Homo sapiens: one gene and its partners. The protein of the gene in region 2 interacts with the protein of the main gene of each other region in a pairwise test. Each region holds a gene or a part of one and is shown on either strand. Other genes may lie near its edges. The genes, in order: DCTN6, RSPH1, MFGE8, SOX10, NETO1, SRXN1 and DOCK3.

Evidence for each region.
Region 1: the proteins of RSPH1 (region 2) and DCTN6 interact in a two-hybrid assay, tested with the Homo sapiens proteins (one large-scale study listed by BioGRID and IntAct).
Region 3: the proteins of RSPH1 (region 2) and MFGE8 interact in a two-hybrid assay, tested with the Homo sapiens proteins (one large-scale study listed by BioGRID and IntAct).
Region 4: the proteins of RSPH1 (region 2) and SOX10 interact in a two-hybrid assay, tested with the Homo sapiens proteins (one large-scale study listed by BioGRID and IntAct).
Region 5: the proteins of RSPH1 (region 2) and NETO1 interact in a two-hybrid assay, tested with the Homo sapiens proteins (one large-scale study listed by BioGRID and IntAct).
Region 6: the proteins of RSPH1 (region 2) and SRXN1 interact in a two-hybrid assay, tested with the Homo sapiens proteins (one large-scale study listed by BioGRID and IntAct).
Region 7: the proteins of RSPH1 (region 2) and DOCK3 interact in a two-hybrid assay, tested with the Homo sapiens proteins (one large-scale study listed by BioGRID and IntAct).

The regions. Positions count from the first base shown.
Region 1 is NC_000008.11:30,162,869-30,166,368, reverse strand, and holds part of DCTN6 (dynactin subunit 6), read right to left. Parts: intron 2,259-3,500; coding exon 2,194-2,258; intron 1-2,193. UniProt on the Homo sapiens protein: Part of the dynactin complex that activates the molecular motor dynein for ultra-processive transport along microtubules.
Region 2 is NC_000021.9:42,486,225-42,489,724, reverse strand, and holds part of RSPH1 (radial spoke head 1 homolog), read left to right. Parts: intron 1-3,263; coding exon 3,264-3,354; intron 3,355-3,500.
Region 3 is NC_000015.10:88,900,782-88,903,379, reverse strand, and holds part of MFGE8 (lactadherin isoform a preproprotein), read left to right. Parts: exon of another isoform or gene 1-1,197; intron 1,198-1,644; coding exon 1,645-1,829; intron 1,830-2,598.
Region 4 is NC_000022.11:37,978,056-37,981,555, reverse strand, and holds part of SOX10 (transcription factor SOX-10), read left to right. Parts: intron 1-3,420; coding exon 3,421-3,500. UniProt on the Homo sapiens protein: Transcription factor that plays a central role in developing and mature glia.
Region 5 is NC_000018.10:72,749,488-72,752,987, forward strand, and holds part of NETO1 (neuropilin and tolloid-like protein 1 isoform 3 precursor), read right to left. Parts: intron 1,134-3,500; coding exon 575-1,133; intron 1-574.
Region 6 is NC_000020.11:650,401-654,415, reverse strand, and holds the start of SRXN1 (sulfiredoxin-1), read left to right. Parts: upstream 1-1,215; 5' UTR 1,216-1,230; coding exon 1,231-1,440; exon of another isoform or gene 1,441-1,463; intron 1,464-4,015. UniProt on the Homo sapiens protein: Contributes to oxidative stress resistance by reducing cysteine-sulfinic acid formed under exposure to oxidants in the peroxiredoxins PRDX1, PRDX2, PRDX3 and PRDX4. Does not act on PRDX5 or PRDX6.
Region 7 is NC_000003.12:51,356,927-51,360,426, forward strand, and holds part of DOCK3 (dedicator of cytokinesis protein 3), read left to right. Parts: intron 1-35; coding exon 36-215; intron 216-831; coding exon 832-915; intron 916-1,034; coding exon 1,035-1,151; intron 1,152-3,500. UniProt on the Homo sapiens protein: Potential guanine nucleotide exchange factor (GEF). GEF proteins activate some small GTPases by exchanging bound GDP for free GTP.

The DNA of each region.
Region 1 (3,500 bases), on a different chromosome or scaffold from region 2:
TAAGACTAGCTTGGCAAAATAGCGAGACCCTGTCTCAAAAAAAAAAAAAGAAAGAAAAAAAAAACCAAAACGGGGTTGTTGTAACATTGGGGGATTTAAAAAAAAAAGAAAAGAAAAAATGTAAAATGGGGAAGAAGTAGAAATGCCAGGGAAAATCTACATAATTAATTACATCACTTCAGTCTTACTTTCCTTCTAACTGAAGAATGCATTGCAAACTACTATAAGGTATTATTCCTAGAATATCATGATGATAGCCACAATTATAATGCAGTAAAATGATGAGTAAAAAGAACACAGAGGAGCATTTTGATAAATATGTGGTCCCAGTCTGCAGTAGAGATTGTAAAAAATTAAAAAACATAACTTTCCTCATTTTGCTTCATAAACACTTCGCAAGTGGTTTAGGTAATACAAAAGACAAAGAGTTACCACGGCACTGAAAAGAAATAATTAAATCAACCAACCTGGCAAATTCTTTTTTCTTTTTTCTTTTTTTTTTTTTCTGAGAAGGAGTTTCGCTCTTGTTGCCCAGGCTGGAGTGCAACGGCGCGATCTCGGCTCACCGCAACCTCTGCCTCCCAGGTTCAAGCAATTGTCCTGCCTCAGCCTCCCGAGTAGCTGGGATTACAGGCATGCACCACCATGCCCAGCTAATTTTGTATTTTTAGTAGTGACGGGGTTTCTCCATGTTGAGGCTGGTCTTGAACTCCTGACCTCATGTGATCCGCCCGCCTCAGCCTCACAAAGTGCTGGGATTACAGGCGTGAGCCACCGTGCCCGTCCTAACCTGGCAAATTCTTAACAATGTTCCATAATACTGGCACAATCTCCACTGGTTTTATAAGACAAGATGCCTAAATTGTTTGGAGGCTTAGATTTTTTTTTGGAAAAAAAAAATGACGTTACAGGGTTTTTTTTTTTTTCATTAAAGAAACTGTTCATTTAAGGAAATAAAGTGTATTTCCTCTCTGAAAGTGTAATAGTTCACTGAACACTTTAGTCTGGTAGCATACAGGTGACATGCGGCTGCTGGTAAGAATGAGCTCACACCAATAAAACTACAAGGGCACCATATCCAGGTAAACCCCAGTTAAAAGAACAGAGTAAAATGTTTGAGGAACTTAGTCAAGTTCACGTAAGTAAAATGTTGGACTTGAACTCTGGCAAGGCTACACTGAGAAGATCTGACAGCGTTAACAGCAAATATTTATTGACAGCTTACTACTCACAATTTTCATGTTTTCTTTCAAGAAACCTAGGAGGTAGATACTACTATTTTGCATGTTATGAAAATTGCTCATTGCCATCCAATATCTCTTCTCCTCTTTTTCCTTGTAATAGAACCCTGATCTCATTAGCGGCTGCAATGCAACCAGCTAAGACTACAACTCCCAAACTCCCTTGCAGCTTGATGTGTCCATGAGATTGTCTTAGCCATGAGACACACAGAGGAGGGTCGTGTGGAACTTTCAGGAAGGCTGTTTAAAGGGAGCTGACTCACAGCTGGAACACATGCCCTTTTGCTTCCACGCCTCCCCTTTCTCATCCAAGATGATGCTTGGTGCTCTAGCCATCACTTCCTGGCCTGCAGGGCCGGAGCTCCATGCTGGACAATCAACCGATCAGCCCTCCATTACTCACCTTGAAACTTTTTATATGAGAGAATAAACCTCTGCAGGTGTAAGCCACCCCTACATGCAGCCGAACCTGATCCTGATACACACAATTATATAGATGGGAAAAACATCAAGGTTAGAGAGGTTAAGTAATATGTTCAAAGTAACCCAGCAAGAAAGGAGCAAGGAGCAGAGTAGCCCAGGTCTGTTGACTCCATGGCCCACGCTCTCCACGAAGCTCCACAAAGGCAGCACCTTTGTCTGCTGTGCTTACTGACGTGTCTCTAGCACTAGCACAGTGCCTGGCACATCGCAGGTACACAACAGATCTCTCTTAAATACATGAATGACTTTGTTATACAGCCTCATTAGTATTTCAGATAGGAGTTTAAACACAGCCTCCATCACACTACATTCTTTCAGAAATTTAAACACATAGGAGAAAATGCATTATTTTGTCAATAAAACTAGGACATCAGTGAAATAAACATGGAAGACGGTATCTAATTGTAAAGCACTAAAATAGATTAAATCACATCAATTCTTGAAAAACAGTAAATAAACTATTTCTTACCGATAGTTACATCTCCTCTGATTTCACTTTCTACACATACAACTGCTCCAGGAGCAATCTTCACACTGTAGCAAGAAAAAGGTAACATTTACCAGGGGTAAGATTAAACATACTGTTGGAGGAGCTACCGTGACATTGTAATGAAAACAAGGTTTAAAAAATGATGGAAAAAAAGGCCAGGCGCAGTGGCTCACGCCTGTAATCCTAGCACTTTGGGAGGCCGAGGTGGGGGGATCACCTGAGGTCAGGAGTTCGACACCAGCCTTACCAACATGAAGAAACCCCATCTCTACTAAAAATACAAAACTAGCCAGGCGTGGTGGCGAGCACCTGTAATCCCAGCTACTTGGGAGGCTGAGGCAGGAGAATCACTTGAACTCGGGAGACAGAGTTTGCAGTGAGCCGAGATCGCGCCATTGCACTCAAGCATGGGCAACAAGAGTGAAACTCTGTCTCAGGAAAAAAAAAAAAAAAAAGATGGAAAAATGGAAAGTCAATGGTAAGAGGGTAAGGTTTTAATACATTATAAATTTTTCAATTGGTATATTGTCCATCATCCCAAATCACATGTGCTAAAACACTTGAGAAGAGTTTTGAATCTTTTCTTTTAATAGCAGCACGTTTCTAAACAACAAAAAGCTGAAAACAACCTAGATATTCATCAGTGGAAGATTAGTTAATAAATTATGGCACATTATGGACTATTACATGGCCATCAAAAAGAATGAATAATCTCTTGTCAAGATTTTGGAATGGCTGAGCACAGTGGCTCACACCTGTAATCCCAGCACTCTGGGAGGCCAAGGAAGGAGAACTGCTTAAGCCCAGGAATTCAAGACCAGCCTGGGCAACATAGTGAGACCTCATCTTTTTTTTTTGAGACAGAGTTTCACTCTTGTTGCCCAGGCTGGAGTGCAATGGCACCATCTCGGCTCACTGCAACCTCTGCCTCCCAGGTTCAAGCAACTCTCCTGCCTCAGCCTCCCTAGTAGCTGGGATTACAGGCATGTGCCACCACACCTGGCTAATTTTGTATTTTTAGTAGAGACGGGGTTTTTTCAGGTTGGTGAGGCTGGTCTCGAACTCCCGACCTCAGGTGATCCACCCACCTCAGCCTCCCAAAGTGCTGAGATTACAGGCATAAGCCACCGTGCCCGGCGACCTCATCTCTTAAAAAAAAAAATATGGAATGATCTCCAAGCTATATTGTTAAAAGTAAAAAAGAGTGAAGTGAGAAAATGGACAGTATGTAATATGCCATTATTTTTGTAAAGGTAGGAAGAAAAAATATACATTCAAACTATTTA
Region 2 (3,500 bases):
TGTAAAACCATATTTCAGCGATTACACATACCAAATGCTGTGGCAAGTGCACGGAACCCTGCCCAGGGTCTGACACCGAGTGTTTCCCCATAAGTGTGGGCTCCTTCTCTCCTGTGTTTGGCTGACCCAGCAGTTTAGGGAGCCAACTTGGCAAGACCATGGGCCAGCATGGCAAACCAGTGACCAACCAGCATTTGAGGGGGGAGGAGCATCTTGGAGAGCTTCTCATTTTAAATTGTCTTCAATCCCAAGTGCCAGACAAACTGCTCTACCCAAGGAGCACCTGCTCCACACCAGCCAACTGACCCACAACCAGCCAATCAAACAGCCAACCAATCAACCAACCAGCCAACTGACTAGCCAACCAAGCAACCAATCAACCAACCAATTAACCAACCAACTGTCTAACCAACCAACCAATTAGCCAACCAGCCAACCAACCAACCAACCAACCAACCAGCCAACCAGCCAACCAAACAGCTAACCAATCAACAAACCAGTCAACTGACTAGCCAACCAACCAAACAACCAACGAACCAGCCAACCAAACAGCCAACCAATCAACCAACCAGCCAACTGACTAGCCAACCACCCAGCCAACCAGTTAACCAACCAACCAGCCAGCCAACCAACCAACCAACCAATCGGTTAGCCAACTAACCAACCAGCCAACCAGCCAACCAACCAACCAACCAGTTAACCAACAAATCAACCAACCAACCAACCAACCAACCAACTGGGAGTTACTCCTGAGAAGAAATATAGTTGGAAAAAACCTCAGTTGACAAGTTCAAGAATGATCAGAAAGTATAGGATTGGGGTAGAAAGACTTTAAAAAAAAAATTAAGTGCAAATTTAAAGCCACAATAATAAAGTTTACAAATGTCACTCACCTCAAAAAAGGAAACTTGACTTATAGCTGTTAGAGATGTGCCTCAGCAGGTGACTTTTCTCTGAATTACCTTCTCTATTTGTGCAGGGTCCCTGTGGTGGCATTACAAAATGCTGGGCCGAGCCTCTTAACAGGTTTTTTAAGTAGATTGGGACTTTAAAAAATTTTGCTCACCGTCCTCTTGGTGCAAAATTTAGTGTCTTTTGCAACTTAACTGTTCTCTTTTATTTTTGAAATTTTTCTGCAAAATATGTAATATATTTTTCTCACCATGACACCCTGGAGATCCTCTGACATGGCCAAGAGAGGAGGGATGTAATAATTTTGTCATGAAGTTTTGTTGGGAAGAAACCAAATGATGTACCTGTTTCAGCTGAGGTCTCTATGCCCCAGGGCTGTGCTGGAACCCCCTCATAGTAGCTCACAAAAACCCATTCTGTGCATCTCTTCCCAGCTCCATGTGTAGCTTGAAATTGGCCGCGGTGTGAGTATTTACACCACAGAACCTGGCAAATGTTACAAATCCAGGCACATCACTGCCCCTTAAGACCCAGACAAATCCCTCTAGGTATTTGCACATCCTCATGGTTAATTTAGGTTCAGGGACCTGAAGTATTTTTTACTGAATTATCTCAATTTGGGGATCTTCATCTCTCTTGTTCACATTGTTCCTGTCACACATCACATCATGGGACCTAGTCCTCTTCCTTAATTGTTAGCAGTTGCCACCTTCCCTCTCTCCATGAATTTTTGGTAAGCCTGCTCTTTTCTGAATGACTTACCCACTTTTTGAAATTGTGCCATGCAGCTTTTCGTGCTGCCTTCCCTGTCCTCAGCTGCTGCTCAGGTGCCAACCTTCCATCCTCAGGCTGGTGCTCGCGCCCTGGGGACATGCACTGTCCTTTGTACAGCTCTTCGTTCATCTCACAAAGTGCCCAGGACATTGTAGGTGCTGAGTAAATAATGGGATGATTGAGGAAATAAATATGTAGAAGTTCCTTCTGCAGATAAATTTTGGGGTTATTCACATAAACAAATATTACTTGAATAATTAGCATTTTCTTAGCCTATTGGGTATTCTTTATCTTCATGTGGAAGTGGGTCCAGTTTTTGTGTAAGCCAGAAGCTTATGTAAGTTTTGAGAACCTCTTTAAAAAAAAGAAAATATAAAGTTGGTATAAAAGTGAATTTTCATTTGCAATGATAAATCAAAATAAGTTAAAAATTTAAAAATACCACAAACATCACAGAATCTAAGTAGCCTGAGTTTTAATGTCTGACATACTTCTAGAATAGCTTTTCTCTACCTTTGTTAGCTAATACTCTTTGAATGCTTCTCCATATGGCAACCATTTTGTAATGTTTTCTATAGAGAGAATAGAAATATAATTCCTTCTTTTCTCTTTGATCAACAAATTGATCAACATTTGCTTTTTATTATTCATAGTCTCAAAACATATCATTTAGCTTAATGACTTGGTGTAATATGCACGTTTTTAAGAGCAGTCACCTTTGGGAGACCTCTATTAAGTTTCTTTCCTAAGTGAGCTGTAAGATTTGAGGACGTTTTGAGTTTTCTAGTGCAGGGATTCATACTGTGGTTGACAAAAGTAGTTTGCAGTTGTCCACATCATGGAGTGGTATTATGAATTTTATGATATCCTTGCCAATTTCAGTACTGCCTACCAAGCCTATAAGGACTTAGCAGAAGCCGTATGGAGGTGAGGAGGTGAGGGAAGAGTTCAAACAGAGGCATGGCACCAGCGGATGGAGCTGGTGTGCAGCTGGGGTTAGAGTGGCATGTTGGAGTCAGATGATTGGGTGGGAGATAGACTGAAATGCTGCCAGGTGGCTGAGGATAGATGGTCAAGCCCTGGAGTTGTTGCTGGATCTCTAAACATTTGCAAGGTAAATGAAGTGTGGTGTTAGGATCACTGGCAATGGGTCAGACAACCTTGGTTTGTCTCCCTCCTCGTTGCATCTTCGTGGTGCCTCTGACTAACCTGTGAAATGTGCTTGTCAGTACATGCAGGTGGCTGTGGCCCACATCCATACACCTCACTCTGTACCCCGTGAACTCCTGACTCAGCCCTCTCTTAGCCCACTGTCCACCGTGGCTCAGCACCTATGCCATCTGGCACAAAAGGAAGGGGTGGAGGGATGTCAGAGTGGAAACAGATAGCAGCCTTGGTCGGTGCTGTTAAAAATCTCTCTTCTGCAGGATTTCCTGAGCAGAAGGGGCCTGTGTGTGCATGGGCTTCATTTGCTTCACAACACATCTGCCTTTGCCATGGTTAACAATTTGAAGACATGGTACAGGGCATCGATCCCTTCTTCTCACCTGGGCTTGCCTTTGTGTTGTTCCTTTCAGGAGAGTGGGCAAATGACCTGCGGCACGGCCATGGCGTATACTACTACATCAATAATGACACCTACACTGGAGAGTGGTTTGCTCATCAAAGGTTCGGTTTCTATCTTGGGTCTTAACGGGATTTGCTTATGTAATGAGAACATGATGTCTGCAGATTGTTTACACTTACTGAGGAACAGAATCATAACAAAAGCCCAGTTACCAACTCTGCCAGGCAGGTCCAATCTTTCTATGGCT
Region 3 (2,598 bases), on a different chromosome or scaffold from region 2:
CCCTAGTATCTCATTTTATAGATGGGGAGACTGAGAGCCAGAGAGAGGAAGGGACTTCCTAGAGTGCTGGAGCTGACAGTCCTGTCCCTGCCCTGGTGCCCCTTCCAACTGCATTTTACCAGAAAGGCTGTCTGACTTCCTGGGGAGGCTGAGAGTGAGGAGGGTATGAACCACTAGAAGCAGATGATCTGTAGAGGGGTCTGCGTTGAGCACATTGTGCAGAATTGGTGTCCTCTGCAAAGCTGCCCAGGTTTTAGCCTGCCTCAGGCCTCTCCTCTTCTGGGGCCAAGGGACAACCAGCTCTCAGCCCGGGAGCCTCTCTTTGAGGGGGAAGGTGGTGGTTCCCTGGTGCATCACCATCAGGAGATGATGGTACCATCAGCAGGCATTGTCAACACACCCTGGAGGCAAATGTCTTGAGTGGTGAGAGTACAGGTGGGCAGTGATATAACTTAGCTGGCTCCCAGTACTCTTGAGTGGTGAGAGTATTGGAGGGCAGTGATATAACTTAGCTGGCTCCCAGAGGGCAGGGGGCTCTCCAGTCCCACCGTCCACTCCTGCCTCCCTCAATTCCCCAGAGGGATAGACACTTGTGGAGTGAGGATTCTTCCAGGTGGGAGACACCCCCATCATTCTCTTGGGAGTTGTATCTCTTGCCCATCCCCAACTGTTCTATCCATATGCAGGTGCAGATACAAGTGCAAGGCAGCCCGGCACATTCCTGAGTGTTTGGGGCAGGGCTGAGTGAAACAAAGGCCAGCTTCCCGGGCCAGCCCTCACAGGCCTGTGTGACAGCATCCCCAGAACATTTGAGTGTGCGAAGGCCCTCTGGGAGACACTAAGTCAGGGGGCTTCTGGGGAATGGAAATAGAGATGTTCCTGTGCCCCAGGAGTTGTCTGATTTCTCTAACTGCCAGCTGCTGGAGGGCAGGGATGTTGTCCTGTTCATCACTGGGTCGTCACTAGGCAGGCCTTCATCATCTAGCTGGGATGTGTAGCTGGTAGAGGTGACGTCATAGTGTGACATTAGGAGTTTGTATGTGACTTGAGCATGATGCTTAATGTCTTTCAGTTTTCTCATCTATAGAATGGGCTTACTAATTTCTACTTCATTTAGTGTTTTTTTTTCTTTTTTTTTTTGGTGGCAGGTTAAATGACTGAAGTAAGCACTGAATAAACAATGTGGTTGTTATTAAAGTAGATAGTGACTGTGCCATGGGACGGATGGGAGGCCGAGGCGATGGGGGCAGTGCTGTGAGTCCAGAAGAGGAAGAAATCCTGCCCAAGTGAAGTAGTCAGGGCAGACTTCTTGGAGGAGGTGTCTCCAAAGTCAGGCATTGAAGGAGGGCAGGAGGTGGTGGAGCAGGGGCCTTCCCTGGTGCAGAGGAGAAGGGTGGTGAGTGGGAGGTCTTGGGTGATCTGTGAGGAGCTGAGCCCGGCTGGTTGAGGTGAGGAGGTGGTGGGGTCGGCAGTGAGAAGGTCGCACAGTTGGCCCTGCAAGGCGGATGGAGCTGCTTTCTGTTGCCCAAGAGCATGACAGGGGCTGGTCAGGATCCACAGAGTTCTTTCTGCTTCATCGCCTTGTGCTCCTGCCCCTGGGAGCTGTGGATCCCAGATCCAGATGACAGCCCACCTTGCTGGCAGGATGCGCCAATCCCCTGGGCCTGAAGAATAACAGCATCCCTGACAAGCAGATCACGGCCTCCAGCAGCTACAAGACCTGGGGCTTGCATCTCTTCAGCTGGAACCCCTCCTATGCACGGCTGGACAAGCAGGGCAACTTCAACGCCTGGGTTGCGGGGAGCTACGGTAACGATCAGTGGCTGCAGGTGGGTCAGCCTTCTTGGGATATGGGGCTGGGGTTGGGTGGGATGAGGTGGGACTGCCAGATCTTTGACCTCTCTCCAGCCCAGGCTTCTCTTCTGCTCCCCAAAAGAGTTCTGGAAAAGCCTTGTTTTTCTTCGGCTTTTCTTTCTTCTTCCCACCTGTACTCCCTTCTCTTGATCCTGCTTCCACCAAGGTGGAGAAAGGGTGTGTGTGTGTATGTGTGTGTGTGTGTGAATGTGTGTGTGTGAGTGTGTGAATGTGTGTGAATGTGAGTGTGTGTGAATGCGTGCGTGTGAATGCGTGCGTGTGAATGTGTGTGTGAATGTGTATGTGTGAATGTGTGTGTGTGAATGTGTGAATGTGTGTGTGAATGTGTGAGAATGTGTGTGAATGTGTGTGTGAGAATGTGTGTGTGAATGTGTGTGTGTGAATGTGTATGTGTGAATGTGTATTTGTGAATGTGTGTGAATGTGTATGTGAATGTGTATGTGAATGTGTATGTGTGAATGTGTGTGAATATGTGTGTGTGAGAATGTGTGTGTGTGTGTGAATGTGTGTGTGTGAATGTGTGTGTGTGAATGTGTGTGTATGTGTGTACACAAGGGGAGAGCCATTCCATGGGCTGCCACAGGATTGACAAGGCTCAGCCTATGGACAGACAGCAGGGCGGAGGCGGAAGAGGGAGACATGACCCAGGCATCTTGGGACCTCTCCCTTGAGCACAGCATACATATTCTCTGACTCAGTGTCTAAGAAGCCACCATGTGACAG
Region 4 (3,500 bases), on a different chromosome or scaffold from region 2:
TGGCTCCTCCATTGTCCCTGTCCCCAGGTTCCCCCAGCCCAGAACCCTGGGCTTGGACTCCCTTCAGGAGGACTTATTCTTGGCCATCACTCAAGCTGTGTGCACAGGGGCCAGCCTGAGGTGTGGCAGTCAGGAAAACTGGCACTACTTGCTGAGGACCCAATCCCAATGGGAGGATGGGGCCAGAACCATGGCAAGGATCAAAGGCAATGCCAACAGAGGGTGGCTCCCTGGACCCTGGAGGGGGGTCCTGAGAGACATTTGGATTTGGGCTGGGCTGGCCAATTGCTCCAGGGGCTTCTCCTGAAACCTCCCCAAGCTGTGACTCCTGGGATGTCAAGAAGTGGGGTGGTTAGGTAGGCAGAGCTGGAAAACAGGTGTCTTAAAACCAAAAAGAGAAAGATACACACAGACTGTGTGGAGTGCCCCAAGGGAGTGTGGGATCAGACACACTGGAGCCCAGGTCCTAAGGGGCCGTGTCAGCCCCAACAGTCATTCTAACCTTTGATGCCCATCTGGGGAGGGGCTAGTTGAGGCTGATCACAGGGTGGTGCCTGTGGGTTGGCTGATCTGCCTGGAAAGAACCAGAGCCAAGAAACTGGAAAGGCGGACACAGGCAAGAGTCCCTCCTGTGTGGTGGGGGTCACCCAGCCTCTGTTCCCAGTGCCACAGGCCCCTTCCCCAAGTAGTCTTCTTATGCCCCTGGCCTAGCAGGACACAGGTAGCAGCAATCAGTGCCCCACTGTGGGAGGTCCCCGGTTGGGGTTTCCAGTTTGGGTGAGGAATCAGCCTACCTCTTCTTGCCCCCATTCCAAACCTGGGAGACCAGGGAGAAAGAGGGCTGACAGGAAGGTGCAGATGAGGACTGGGTTTGGAGTTAGAGCTGGAGGCGAAGTTGGGGGTTTGGGGCTGGTAATGTTGAGTGGGGACTGGTGCTGGAGATTGGGTTTACATGGTGGGCAGGCTGGGCTTGGGGTTGGGGTGGAGGTGGAATCAGCTGTCCGGCACAGCTGGTGGAGGAGGGAGCTGGGGTCGGGGATGGCAGTGGCCCCAGGCTTAGATTTCTGTCAGGGTTAGGCTAATGCTGGGAACTAGCTTAGGAGGTAGCAGCGGAATCCGATGTTGGAATCCTCTCTCTCTTCTGGCCCCTGTCACTTTCTTGCTGATGCTGGCTGCCAGCTGGGCAGGGGGCAAGGGAAGGATAGGTGAAAGAGTGAGCTCTGTGTCCCATGTCCCCAGCCATCCCAGAAGCCCCTCTGTTGGGGTCCACTGCTGGCGGAGCAGCTCTCTCCTCTGTGGGTTCTCCCCAGTCACACCCTCAAGGCCTGCTCCACCCCCTCCCCTGGTCCCAGCCGTCAGAGAGGGTGCCCACATCCCACTCCCTGACTCTCAAGGCCCTGCTCCGGCATCTTTGTCCTAAGTGTGTACACTGACTCTGACAGAGTCTCGGCTGGAGGGACCCTCTGAGAAAGCTGGGGCTAGGGCTGGGCTCAGGGCCGGGGTGGGGGGAGTAGACAGGGAGGCTAAGCCGCAGAGGAATGCTGCTGCCGGCTAGGAGGTGCCTGGCATGACCACCCCCGCCCAGCCTGGGGAGGGAGGGCTCGGCCTTCTGCTGACTGGGGGAAGAGGGCACTCACTGGGGTGTGAGGGGTGGGGCAGCTGAAGAGACAAGCCCTCTGGACTGACAGACAAGGCTGCTCCCACAAAGACTCATGGATTCTCAGTACCAAGGTCTGGGATTCTAGAATCTGGACTTTCCCCTCGACCCCCTCTGTAAGGTACCCCATCCTGCCCTCCTCACCCTGGGGCAGCCAAACCCTAAATGCCCTCCACCCTCCAACCCTGGCCTAAGGCTGGAGTCGGTGGCAAGGGCGCTGGCTTCAGGGCTTCTTCTCTCCATGTGTTGGTTTCAGGGACTGTTCCAGGGTCTGAGGAGAGGCTAGCTTCCTCTACTCTCTGCTATTTTCTGGACAAGGATATAGGATCCCCCACAGGAGGCAGTACCCCCCACCCAGACCCATGGTAAAGAGGAGCCACATCTGCCCCCTCAGTCCCACCACACTGGAATTCACACAATCAGGACCCAGAGTTAAGAGTCCAACCCTAGATCCTCCTGTCCAACCACCCCCGCAAGCAGCATTAGAAAAGCACCTCTTGGGGCCGGGCACGGTGGCTCATGCCTATAATCTCAGCACTTTGGGAGGCCAAGGCGGGTGGATCACCTGAGGTCAGGAGTTGGAGACCAGCCTGGCCAATATGGTGAAACCTCGTCTCTACTAAAAATACAAAAATTAGCCAGGCATGGTGGTGCGTGCCTGTAGTCCCAGCTACCCGGGAGGCTGAGGCAGGAGAATCGCTTGAACTCAGGAAGCCGAGATTGCAGTGAGCTGAGACCGCATCACGGCACTCCAGCCTGGGCGACAGAGTGAGACTCTGTCTCTAAATAAATAAAAAATTAAAAATAGAAAAGTACCTCTTGGGCTGGGCACAATGGCTCATGCCTGTAATCCCAGCACTTTGGAAGGCCAAGGCAGGCGGATCAACTAAGGTCAGGAGTTGGAGACCAGCCTGGTCAACATGGTGAAACCCCATCTCTACTAAAAATACAAAAATTAACCGGGCGTGGTGGCGCATGCTTGTAATCCCAGCTACTTGGGAGGCTGAGGCACAAGAATCACTTGAACCTGGGAGGCAGAGGTTGCAGTGAGCTGAGATCATACCACTGAGCTCTAGCATGGGTGACAGAGTGAGATTCCCTCACAGAAAAAAAAAAGAAAGAAAGAAAAGCACCTCTTCCTCAAGGTGCTCAGCCCGCTTCCCAGGCCCTGGTGCAAGGCATCTCACATCCATTATTCTGGCCAATCCCACACCCAAGTTAAGCCAATGTTATCATCCTTTTATAGGTGAAGAAACTCAGGCTCAGAGAAGTAATTTGCTCAAGGTCACACACACAGCTAGTAAGTAGCAGAGACTGAGTTCTCCCCCAGCCATGCTGCTTCTATTGCCCACCCTCAGTCCCAGGGAGCTCACCCCCACTGAAGTAGCCAATTCCACTTGCAGACAGCTTTGATGATGAGAAAGTTTTTCCTTTCCTTGAACTGGCATCTGCCCCTTGAAACCTCTACTCCTACTTCTAACTCCTCCTCAGGGGCTGCCAGGAGCAGCGGGCTGACCCCTCTCTCACCCTCCAGCCCATGAAAGATTTGGGGGCAGCCCTCTGAGGCTGTTATTCCTTGGGCCTCACATCTCTCAGTCCACAAATCATAGGGCACAGCCCCCACCCCGGGTCCTGTCCTCTGGGTGCCCCATCCCAGGGCCTCACATCTTCCAAGATGGACACTCAGAGGGAGGCCAACCTGGAGTGCTCTGGCATTCACGCCAGCCCCTCTGCTGTCCTCTCCGCCTCCCACCACACCCCAGGCTGCTGAACGAAAGTGACAAGCGCCCCTTCATCGAGGAGGCTGAGCGGCTCCGTATGCAGCACAAGAAAGACCACCCGG
Region 5 (3,500 bases), on a different chromosome or scaffold from region 2:
TAAGTGTAAATGATGAATATACTATACTATCCTATGCAATTCCTAATATAAATATTATGTAATATGTGAAAGAAAAGTATTTTTGTGTTCCTACCAAAAATAAATACATTATATTGAAAAATATGTTATTTTGGGATTAAAATTGTCCATCAAGATGGGTGAGCCATCTTGGTAAGGCAATCGTTTTCAAATATCATTTCATATCTCAAAATATATAAATATTGATGGGAGCAATGGTCACATGGAAGTAAGTTTGCATTATAAATCTGTATTATAAATTAAAAGCCATCATTTTATAAAATAAATATGTGTATATGTTTAGAAATAAATAAAGTATCTTTGGTCTCTGTGTGCATGTGTGTTCACACACATACATATCGTGCACATGTATGAGGTTTAGGAAGAATATGGATAGCAGTGAAAAGGAAAAAGAAGAGGGAAACTATTGGAAAACTAGGGTTTAAATCATTAATTAAAGGGAAACTGAAATATGAAGACAAAATAGAAGACAATACTCTGGAAGTATTTCAGTCTTCAGGTTATAGTTGTCATCAAAAAATCTATTGATACTGACCGCTGGACGGCTTTATCGTGTCTGGACAGCCTGTGACTGGTGGTCGGCACCTCTTCGATTTCATCTATGTCACAGGCATCTGCAGCATCTTGCGAGTAGCTGTGTTTCATGACAAGGATATTTCTTCTGTTCATGGGTGGGATGAGGGGTTTTCCTGGCTGTGTGGGCATCTCTGTCAAGATAGAAGCATCTCTTGTGCTGAGGTTACTGCGGCTGCCTTTAGTGCTGGACAGCTGTGATCCACAGTGATGGTCATGAATGCATTTGGAAGATGACCTCCGCAGTTTATGGTAATTTTCAAAGTCATCTGCCACATCTGCAAAGTCAGCTGTAGCTCCTGTCCCTCTGAGAGTGCATAACTCATAATGAGGAGGTTCAAATACCTCCTGGAAAACTGTCTGGTCAAAGTCTGATTTCCTTTGGACATACTTTTTACGAGGCTGTTTGATCTGTACGATGACAGAGATGATAATGAGGATGATCACGATGCAGGAAGTCACGCCAATGACAGTCCCACTGGTGTTGGTCAGCTGGTCCAGCAGGCTGGTTTTCCTCTTCTCTATAGGTTGGAGAGAGTGAAAACAACAAACGGACAAAAGAAGAAGCAACGCAGCAAACATTAATATTATAGTCAAAATGTGTATTAAAAACTTAAAGTAAAGCAGGCTGAGCACAGAATTTTTACAGGCTTATAATAACTTAAGAAAATATTTAAAAATAAATACAAGGTCTCGTTTTTCACCAAAAAAATCCACTGAGCAGCCTTAAAAATAGCCCTCCCTCCCCATTGCCCAGCATCTCAGCTTAAAATACACACACACACACACACACACACACACACACACACACACAATCCTCTATCTATCTAATCTATCGTAGGTTAAGAAAATATTTTAAAATAAATACAAAGTCTCTTTTTTCACAAAAAATACACTGACCAGTCTTAAAAATAGCCCCCCTCCCCATCGTCCAGCATCTCATCTTAAAATACACACACACACACACACACACACACAATCTATCTATAAAGTAACAACAATATTCTGATACCAAAGGATAATTCAATTCAATCTGAAGACACACACTTTTGGAATGATGGCATGGACTCTTTCCCAAATGAAATAATCACAACTGGTAGAAAATTATTTTAAAAACTCAACCAATTAAAGCCTGGTTTAATGAAACTCAGGAAATTGTCCTAATGATGTACATCAAGTGGAAATATATTTATATAAACCAATCTACTAAATGTCCTTAGGACCAGTGAGAGTCTGTGGCATTTGAGCCATGACTTGCTTCCTCCACTCTTGATTCACCACGATGGGAACCCTACTCAGGGAGGTGTGGACAAGAACGCAGGGCACCCTCTCCCTGCAGCTCCCAGTTAAGTGAGTTATGGAATCTCCTTAGAAGGGGAAAGCTACCAGCATTTCTCAATGCCCAACCAGGTCCATGTTGGACATGCTTCTTTTCTGGCCTGAGTGGCTGAGATGTCTGGGGCTCCCGAGGTTCCTCCTCTCAGCCTTCACTTGGAGGGCAGGAGCTCAACACCAGGTGTCTCCAGTGGAGAATGCCAGGCTTGGATCATGCTTACCCAAGTTTGCTGACACAGGAGAGCTGCCTGGAGTGGCAAGTTGACAACACCACATGTTAGCAACCTCACCCAAGTGCTCTGTGCATAAACAGACCTGTACCACTGTTCCTGCCCCGACCCAGAAGAAGCTGTGCCCAGAAAGAGAGTCAGGCTGAAAGTACAGAAAGCATTATAGCTTCCCCTAAATAAAGTTAGTTTATTTGAAATGGTGTGTGGAGAAACTTAAGCCTAATGATAATTTCAAAAACTATGGAGATTTTGTGGTATGCACAGGCTTCTGGACATTCGAAAGTTCGTCTTATTGCTCTAAAGACACTAACTGCCTCTTAGTGTTTTATGAGGGCCTGGCTGGTACTTGGATAGGAGACCACCTGGGAATACCGAGTGCTGTATGCATTTAAGAGGCAGTGTGCAATTAAGTATGCAATTAAGAGACAGTTAGTGTCTTAAGAGCCATAAGACGAACCTTAGAACATCTAGAAGTTTAACAGAACGAGCTAGGAGAGTAACAGCTAATGAGAGTCCTCCTGGGTTATAACAACTCACAAAGGCTAGACTCAAGGACTACCCTTGCAATTAATTAAATTTAATTGACTAGACTGTAGAAAAATTTATGATCTTGGGCACTGTCAAAAGCAGTAGAGCAATCAGCCGGCAATTGGTGGAGACTAACAACTGGCTGCAATACCAACAGAGGTGATAGCTAAATAGAGAGAACAGGAAATGAGAGAGGCACAGAGAGCCCTGTTAAAACCGTGTTGCCCAAGGCTGATGGTGCGAAGTCCAAGGCGGTGGCCTCTGTGGTGCAGCATCAGAGGCTTCACTAAAATGGTCCAGCCAAGTCTACATTTAGAAACAAACAAGAAAAACTACAAGTCCTGGGAGGAAGGAGTTAGTATTCAGAGATGCTACTAATCTAACATGTGATTTTCAACAAAACATTATAATACATGTAAAGAAACAGTAAAGCGAAGTGTATATATAGGAAAAAAAAAAGCAGGCAATGAAAAGACCCTTTGGGGAGCCGGATATTGGAGTTGGCAAAGATTTCAAAGCAGCTATAATCAATATGTCTAAGGAACTAAAGCAAGCTATGACTGAAGAAGCTAAAGAAAATGAGGACAATGCTCATCAAATAGAGAATATTAATGAAGAAATATAAATCATATAAAAATGTAAAGTCTAGAATTGAACAGTACAATTACTAACATGATAACTTCCTGGAGCCTCAACAGTACATTTCAGCTGGAAGAAGAAAGTATCAGCTAACTTTATAAAGACAGAGGCATGCGAATAGTGCAATATGAAAATGAGTTTCAAAACAAGAAGGCA
Region 6 (4,015 bases), on a different chromosome or scaffold from region 2:
CAGCAAAATGGATGTTATGCAATTCACAGAGCACTATGAGCACTCTCTCAATTCACACAACTTTGAGTGATGGGCAGCATGACTTCATTTTACAGACGGGGTTCAGAAAGTGTCAGCAACTGGTGGAAGGCAAAGTAGAAACTCCTGGCTCCCTCCTTCGTCTCCAGTTTTCTCCAGCTGGCAGGGTAAGTATGCATTTCTCCATGTTCGTGCCATTCAGGTTGAGAAGGAAGACAAGCAAACCAGACATGCTTGTCTTCGACCGAGTCTGGGATCGTCCACCTTCCTGCTTGGAGTTGGTGGTTAAGTGGCCCCACAGTTTGGACTCGTGTGACCTGACTTTCATTTCAGCTGACCTTGAACAGCGGGTCTATAACTGCACCTACTTCCAGTAGTGTTGTAATGACACAAACAGACAGTGTGGAACTTGAAGGCAGGGCCCACCCATTGTCAGCGCGACTCCTGAGGGCTCCGTGTGACAGTCACTGTTGCTGAACCAAGGCAGCCAACGGTGGGGTAGAAGGCGGACTCTGGAGCCAGACCGTCTGGATTTGAACGCGGATTCGGCCACTTACTAGTTCCGTGATCTTGGGTACATCACTTAAACCTGTGTCTCAGTCTCCTCTTCTGTAAAATGGGAATAACAGTCATACCTTCCTTGCAGGGTTGTTTTGAGGTTCAGATACGTTAATACACGTGCAAAATGTTCGGAACGACTCCAGACACAGCCGGCGCCAGACTGGAAGTGGAACCGCTGGTGGGGATCATAACCTCGCTGGCTAGGAACCCCAGCAGCGGGGCAGCAGCGCACCGCGGGCTTTGCCGACTCACCCTGGCTGGGCAGGTCCGCCGCGCTCTCCCCCGCCCCCGCCCCCGCGGCCTAAGTCGGCCCGGCCGGTGCGTCACCCGCGCCCCTCCCGCCCCGCGACCTGCAAACTCACCCTGAGTCAGCCCGCCCGGGCGTTTCCACTCCCCGGACGCCGCGCGGCGCAGGGGAGGCGAGAGGCGCCCCCCGGTGGAGAGCCTGAGCCCCGCGCGAGTCTGGCGGCACCTGGCGAGCGGAGCCGGAGTCGGGCTGGGGACCGCGGGGTCGAGGCCGGACCGCGGCGGGGTCGGGGGAGAAACGCGCGCTGCCCTGGCACGGGCCCCCCCCCCCGGCCGCGCGGAATGGTATGGCCCGGCCGGAGTTAAGGCCGGGGGGAGGCGGCGAGTCCCGCGGCGGCGGCGACGATGGGGCTGCGTGCAGGAGGAACGCTGGGCAGGGCCGGCGCGGGTCGGGGGGCGCCCGAGGGGCCCGGGCCGAGCGGCGGCGCGCAGGGCGGCAGCATCCACTCGGGCCGCATCGCCGCGGTGCACAACGTGCCGCTGAGCGTGCTCATCCGGCCGCTGCCGTCCGTGTTGGACCCCGCCAAGGTGCAGAGCCTCGTGGACACGATCCGGGTGAGGCCTCGGGGAGTCCAGCCAACCGGAGGGAGGGCTTCGGAGGAGGGAGGTTGCCGGAGGAGGGAGGTCGCTGCGATGGACGCGAGACGGACTGGTTCCGGGCCCAGCCGGAGCTCAGCCTCTGCTGTGTGACCTTGAGCAAGTAGCTGGGCCTCTCTGGGCCTCTGTTTCCTCACTTGAGCAAGGAGGGAATTGGGCGAGATAATTAAAGTAGTGATGATAACGCTTATAACGCTAGTGCTTGCAGTGGTCCAGGAACTGCAGGAAGTCCCTCAGTTTCCTATGCCAACCCTAGGAGGTAGATAGTGGCTCTTTTGCAGACGAGAACTGAGGCAGGGAAGATTTCAGCGGCTTGACTAAGATCAGGCGCTTAAAAAGTGACACGGCTGGAATTCACACCCAGGCAGCCTGGGCCCCACTGCCCAGCACATGGCCACCGCACTACCCGGAGATAAGCCGTGGGCTCTCATGGCTGTGACAGTCAGTGACAGTGGGACTAGGTGTGTCATATCTGCTGGGAGGCCCTTGTCTGAATGGGAAGTGGGAGAGGTCAAGGGTCAGCTCCACCACTGAGGAAGGGTGTTAAGAATACCGGAGTGATTCTGGCAGGAACTTGGGGGCCCCGCAAGAACAGGTGTCAGGTTAGGCCTACATAACGTTGTGTCCCCTTCCCCCGACCCTTGGAAGGTGAGCACATGAGATCCCTAAGCCCCACCCAGCACCTCTACAGCCACCCCCGATAACTTTCAGTCCTAGTATTTACACTAGTGTCCTCACTGCCTGGAGCCACTTCCCCAGACAACCACAGGGCCTGCTCCCCTGCCTGGTTCAGCTCTCTGCCTCCTTGATCACCCTTGGTCAGAGTCACTGGCCTCTCTAGCTCTCCCCTTAGCCCGAGATGTTTTTCAGGATACCACTTATGTCCACCAGAAATTATATTATACATCTATTTGTGTTGCATTTTATTTTCTGTCTTCCTGACCTCACGTGCACTCCACAAGGGCGAGGACCTCGTCCCATCTTATCTGTTGCCACAATAGTAGCACGGCGCCTGGCTGAGATGGGAAGGGATCTGCCATGCATGCCCTGTCCCACCACTGGGCTTTTTCTCCCGTTGAGAACCTCTTCTATCTCTGCCTTGTCGTTTCTCACTCTTTCTCGGTCTTCCTGTCTCAGTGTCAGGATCTTCCCTGACCATCCCTACCGGGTTAGGAGCTTCTGTGGGCCTGCAGCCACCTGTGTGCCCACCTGCATAGCTCTGATCTCACTGGCTTTTTTTTTTTTTTTTTAAGACGTTGTCTGGGTCTGTCACCCTGGCTGGAGTGCAGTGGCACGATCTTGGCTCACTGCAACCTCCGCCTCCCGGGTTCAAGCCATTCTCCTGCCTCAGCCTCCCAAGTAGCTGGGATTACAGGCGCCCACCACCACGCCTGGCTAATTTTTGTATTTTTAGTAGAGATGGGGTTTCACCCTGTTGGCCAGGCTGGTCTGAAACTCCAGACCTCAAGCGATCTGCCCACCTCGGCCTCCCAAAGTGCTGGGATTACAGCCCACTGGCTTTTAACGTCCTGTCTAGACACCTGCCTTCCGTGCTAGAACCGTAGGCTCTGAGGGCCAGAACCAGCTCTGCCTTTGCTTACATACACCTGTATTAGTTTTCTGGGGCCACTGTAAGTTACCACAAAGTTGATGGCTTAAAACAACACAGGTTTATTTATGGTCAGAAGTCCAAAATGGGTCTTACTGGGCTAACACCAAGCAGGGCTGCACTACTTTCTGTAGGCTCTAGGGGAGAATCCATTTCCTCGCCTTTCCCAGCTTCCAGACGCCACCCACACTGCTTGGCTTATGGCCTCTTCCTCTGTCTTCAAAGCCAGCAACATCAGGCCAAGGCCTTCTCACATCGCATCACTCTGACCTCTTCCTCTACTTCCTCTTCCAGTTTTAAGGACCCTGATAATGGCATTCGACCCATCTAGATAACCTTGGATAATTTCCGCATCTCAGGATCCTTACCTTAATTCTGTCTGCCAAGTCCCTTCTCCCATGTAAGGTAACACATTCAGAAGCATTCGGGCGTGGACATCTTTGGGAGCCATCATTCTGGCCATCCACCATCGTGCCTCCAGTACCCGGCACAAGGCCTGCCTGGCACGGCTGCCCTCCTTAGTGCTCCACTAATGCCCGGTAGGCATCAGCTCACTGACTCTTCATCAGCAGCCCTCTAGGATGTTTTATTCCCAGTTTACAGGTGAGGAATGGTGTTCAGAGGGCTGTGTGCCCCAGCTGCTGTGGAGAGGAGCTGAGATCCAAAGTCAGGTGTGCCAGGTTCCAGAGCTCAGGCTTGTGACTGCTGCACCTTACTGCTGAATAATCATTTGTGGAATCATGAGAGAGAACCCGTGGACCAGCAGCAGGAGGCCTTCCACGCCGCTCACACTTAATGGGGTCTCCCCAGAGTGCTCTACCCTGCACCCGTCCTGCCCCAGACTTTCCCTGTTTAGAGGATGACCTACTCTCCACCTGGCTGTGTGGGCCCCTAACAGGAAGTCAACTTAGATTCTCCCTTTTC
Region 7 (3,500 bases), on a different chromosome or scaffold from region 2:
TTTCTGGGATGACTCTGTGTGCTGTGTGCCCCTAGGTGGAGGTGAGCCCTCTGGAGAATGCCATCCAAGTGGTTGAGAATAAGAACCAGGAGCTACGCTCCCTGATCAGCCAGTATCAACACAAGCAGGTGCATGGCAACATTAACCTGCTAAGCATGTGCCTGAATGGTGTCATTGATGCAGCTGTCAATGGAGGCATTGCACGCTATCAGGAGGTAAGCTGTGGCCACAGGCCAAACCCATGCAGCCAGCCTGGCCAGGAAGGCGGCTCACAGGCTTCTCTTTTCAAGATTATAGTCTCCTTAGGTAGCCTTCCCTACATGCCCTCTCTTGACATGGTCCTGGAATGAGGCCCTAAGCTCCCTATCACTCCCTATTTCTTTGGCACAGTTTGGTAGGGCCTTTTCTTCATTTTTATTCTCTGAACTCTAAGATGGGTAATCTGTAATCCTGATTATGGGAGGATGTTAAGTGCCCTCCAAGAGGAGCCTTGGAGCCCAGCCCGTCAGGAGAAGTGAGTTGTAGGCTGGATAAGAGGCTAGCCCCTACTCCCAGTCCACCAGTCCTGCCTGCCCTACCTAGGCCATCCAGGCTCCATGAGGGACTGGGGTCAGCATCCAGACTTAGATGGCTTGGCCACGTTCAGTCCTTCTCAGACAAAAAAACACACCTCTAATTGCCAGAAGTTCAAACAGGCCAGACTGGTGTATGTACCTATGAGGAGACAGCCTGGCTGCTTTTTAGGTGGCATTAGTGGACTCAAGTCTCCTGGGCCCCACTTAAGTAGTAGTCCTGGGAAGAGTCTTCCTGACTTGGCCTTTCCTTTCACAGGCCTTCTTTGATAAAGATTACATCAACAAGCACCCAGGAGATGCTGAGAAGATCACCCAGCTCAAGGAGCTTATGCAGGAGCAGGTATGTCTTGGAGGGCTTGGGAACCAGCAGCCAGGTGAGAAAAGCCATGCACTACAAGATGAGCAGTTCTCAGGGGCTACTCATGGTTCACAGAGTGGCCTTGTTTGTGACTCTGATAGGTTCATGTCCTTGGAGTTGGGCTAGCAGTTCATGAGAAGTTTGTGCACCCAGAAATGCGGCCTCTGCATAAGAAGCTAATTGATCAGTTCCAGATGATGCGGGCCAGTCTCTACCATGTAAGTTGATCCCTGTCCTGCCCCTGCTGCAGTAGAACCAGGTGTCACTTCCTCCAGACCTACGCCACAAACCAAAGGAAAATAGGAGAGAGGGAGCCTGGGCAGGGGCCGGGGTTGGGGAGAGAGGCTGTCCTCCCTACAGAGGGACAGGGGGCAAGGATGGATGCTATATCCAGGGGAAGGATGCTGAGGATCCTCCCACTCACTCACTCCCAAAGGAGGAGCCAGATTCAAGGGCAGGGAACGTTTTTCAGGGCACTGTGCTAGTAGACAGGTTTTCATATGTGAAGGAAGAGAGCTAACATATATGGCCCACATGTAGGGATCTTTTTGGAGATGTTTTTCATCCCAAGAACCTAAAGAGATAGGCATGGCCTGAGCCAGCCTTCTCTCCCCATCTCCCTCCTCCTCCTCTCTCCCTGTCCTTCTTCATTCTTTCTCCTCCCTCTAATCGTTCTCTTTTCCCTCTTTTTACTCTTCCTCCCAACTCCCTTTTCTCCCTCTGTCTCTCCCTCCCTCTTATTCCCAGCTTCCTCTATCATGTCTCGTGATCCAAGCTCACATCTGAGATAGCCTAGGATGAGCAGTACTTTCATGCTAGCAGTCCTTAAAGGAGTCAAGCAGGTCCTGGGGCTGGACCAGGCTCCTGAAAGTCTCCCTAACTCTGGCCCAGCTCTTCAGCCTCCACAGTAGGGTTTGGCCCAAGGACTTAAACACACAAACAGGACTTATATTCCAGGACCAGTATTCCTTGGCAGGGTCTTAGAGGAAATGCTGACTGGCTGAGGATAGAGCCCCCTATTCACATATCCAAACCTCATTTTCAACTGTGGGGCTGACTCCAAATGTTTTCTAAAGATCCCTTCCTGCTAAACAGGCTGGCTCCCAGATCTTAAGGGATATGAGCCCAATTACCTGCTGCTACCTGGCACCCAAGCCAAGTTCTCTTCTCATCACCCAGGACCACTGGACAGAAGTGGCAGGGAGACAAGAAGTAGAGCTGTTCAATGCTGCACGAGGTTGTCATGAGCAAAAAATTCCCCCTCTAGGGATAACCATGGCCACAGGAGCCCTGAGGGAGGTTGCACTACTTAAACTCAGTGGGCCTGACCCATTTGGGGCGGACCTGCTGTGTTCTTGGATGCTGCAGGTTCTGGTCATCTCCGTCCCTCCAGGCTCCCAGTGCAGGTCTCAGCCTGTGTGGACAAGTGTGGACAGCATGAAAAGAGAAAAAGAAGCTTGTTGTAGTTTGAGAGGTAGGGGCACATTTTCCAGAGGAAAGCCTGGAGATCCTGAAATTTCTCCCTCTGTTAGGATTCTCCCATGGTATTTCAAGGTGAAATATGCAGAGAAGCTCTTTTACATCTCCGCCTTAAAATTGGAGTGTCCATTTAGTTAAGAACTTGGGCAGTATCGCTGAGTCTGGTGGGTATTCATTCCACTACCTCTCATTCCAGGGTCTCCTGCCTGTTTGACTGGTCTCTGCTGTGTGCAAACTTCCCCATCACAGCAGGTGACCCAAGCAGGCTGGAGCCTGGCCAGTGAGGAGGTTCTCTGCCATGTGGGTTGCAGCAAAAAGCACAAAACACTTTCCTATATACATCACGTTCTTCCGTGTGCACACATAGCCTTTCTCCAGCTACAGAAATACATTTTAGCCCTCTGTATGCTTTGGAAGAAGCAGGTGGAAAACCCGGTGCTTCTTCACACCAAGCTCAGAAATATCCCCAGTGGACTTAGGGCCCCTGTTCACTACAGCTTTTGAAGGACGTGAGGAAACCTTAACAGTTGTTTCCTCTGAGTTGTACACAGGGACACAAACAAACATGCTGTCACCCAGTAGGGTTTGAGATCAGAAGTGTCTGCCCAGAAATCTACATACTTAATATGAATTAATTAAGCTAAAATAGAGCTGTGCTATTTTTCAGTTACATACATCAGGATTTTATGTTCTGTCTCCCCGTAGACTGTGTCACAGACAACCCAGGTCACTAAGAGCTGGGCCATTTAGCAGTCTAATAAAACCCAACACCAATCCTTATGTAATTGGTGCCCACCTATTGACAACTAATAATAAGCTCTTCCTCTCCTTCTTCCCAGATCTTGTTCTACTTATTCCGTAGCGAGAAAACCTGTTAACACACTCCTATGAGCTCAGACCAGCTTCAGTTTATTCCAGATGTGCTTCTCTTAATGTGGAGTCAACCTGGGGCCTCGCACACGGCCTTTGGTCTAGGTTCCAGTGCAGTTAGGAGGGTGTTTTAGTCGTGAAGAGGGCATTGCCCAAAGGAAGTCAGCAGTTCAGGTTCAGCCAACCATATGATTCTTTTTTGTTTCTTTTACATTTTT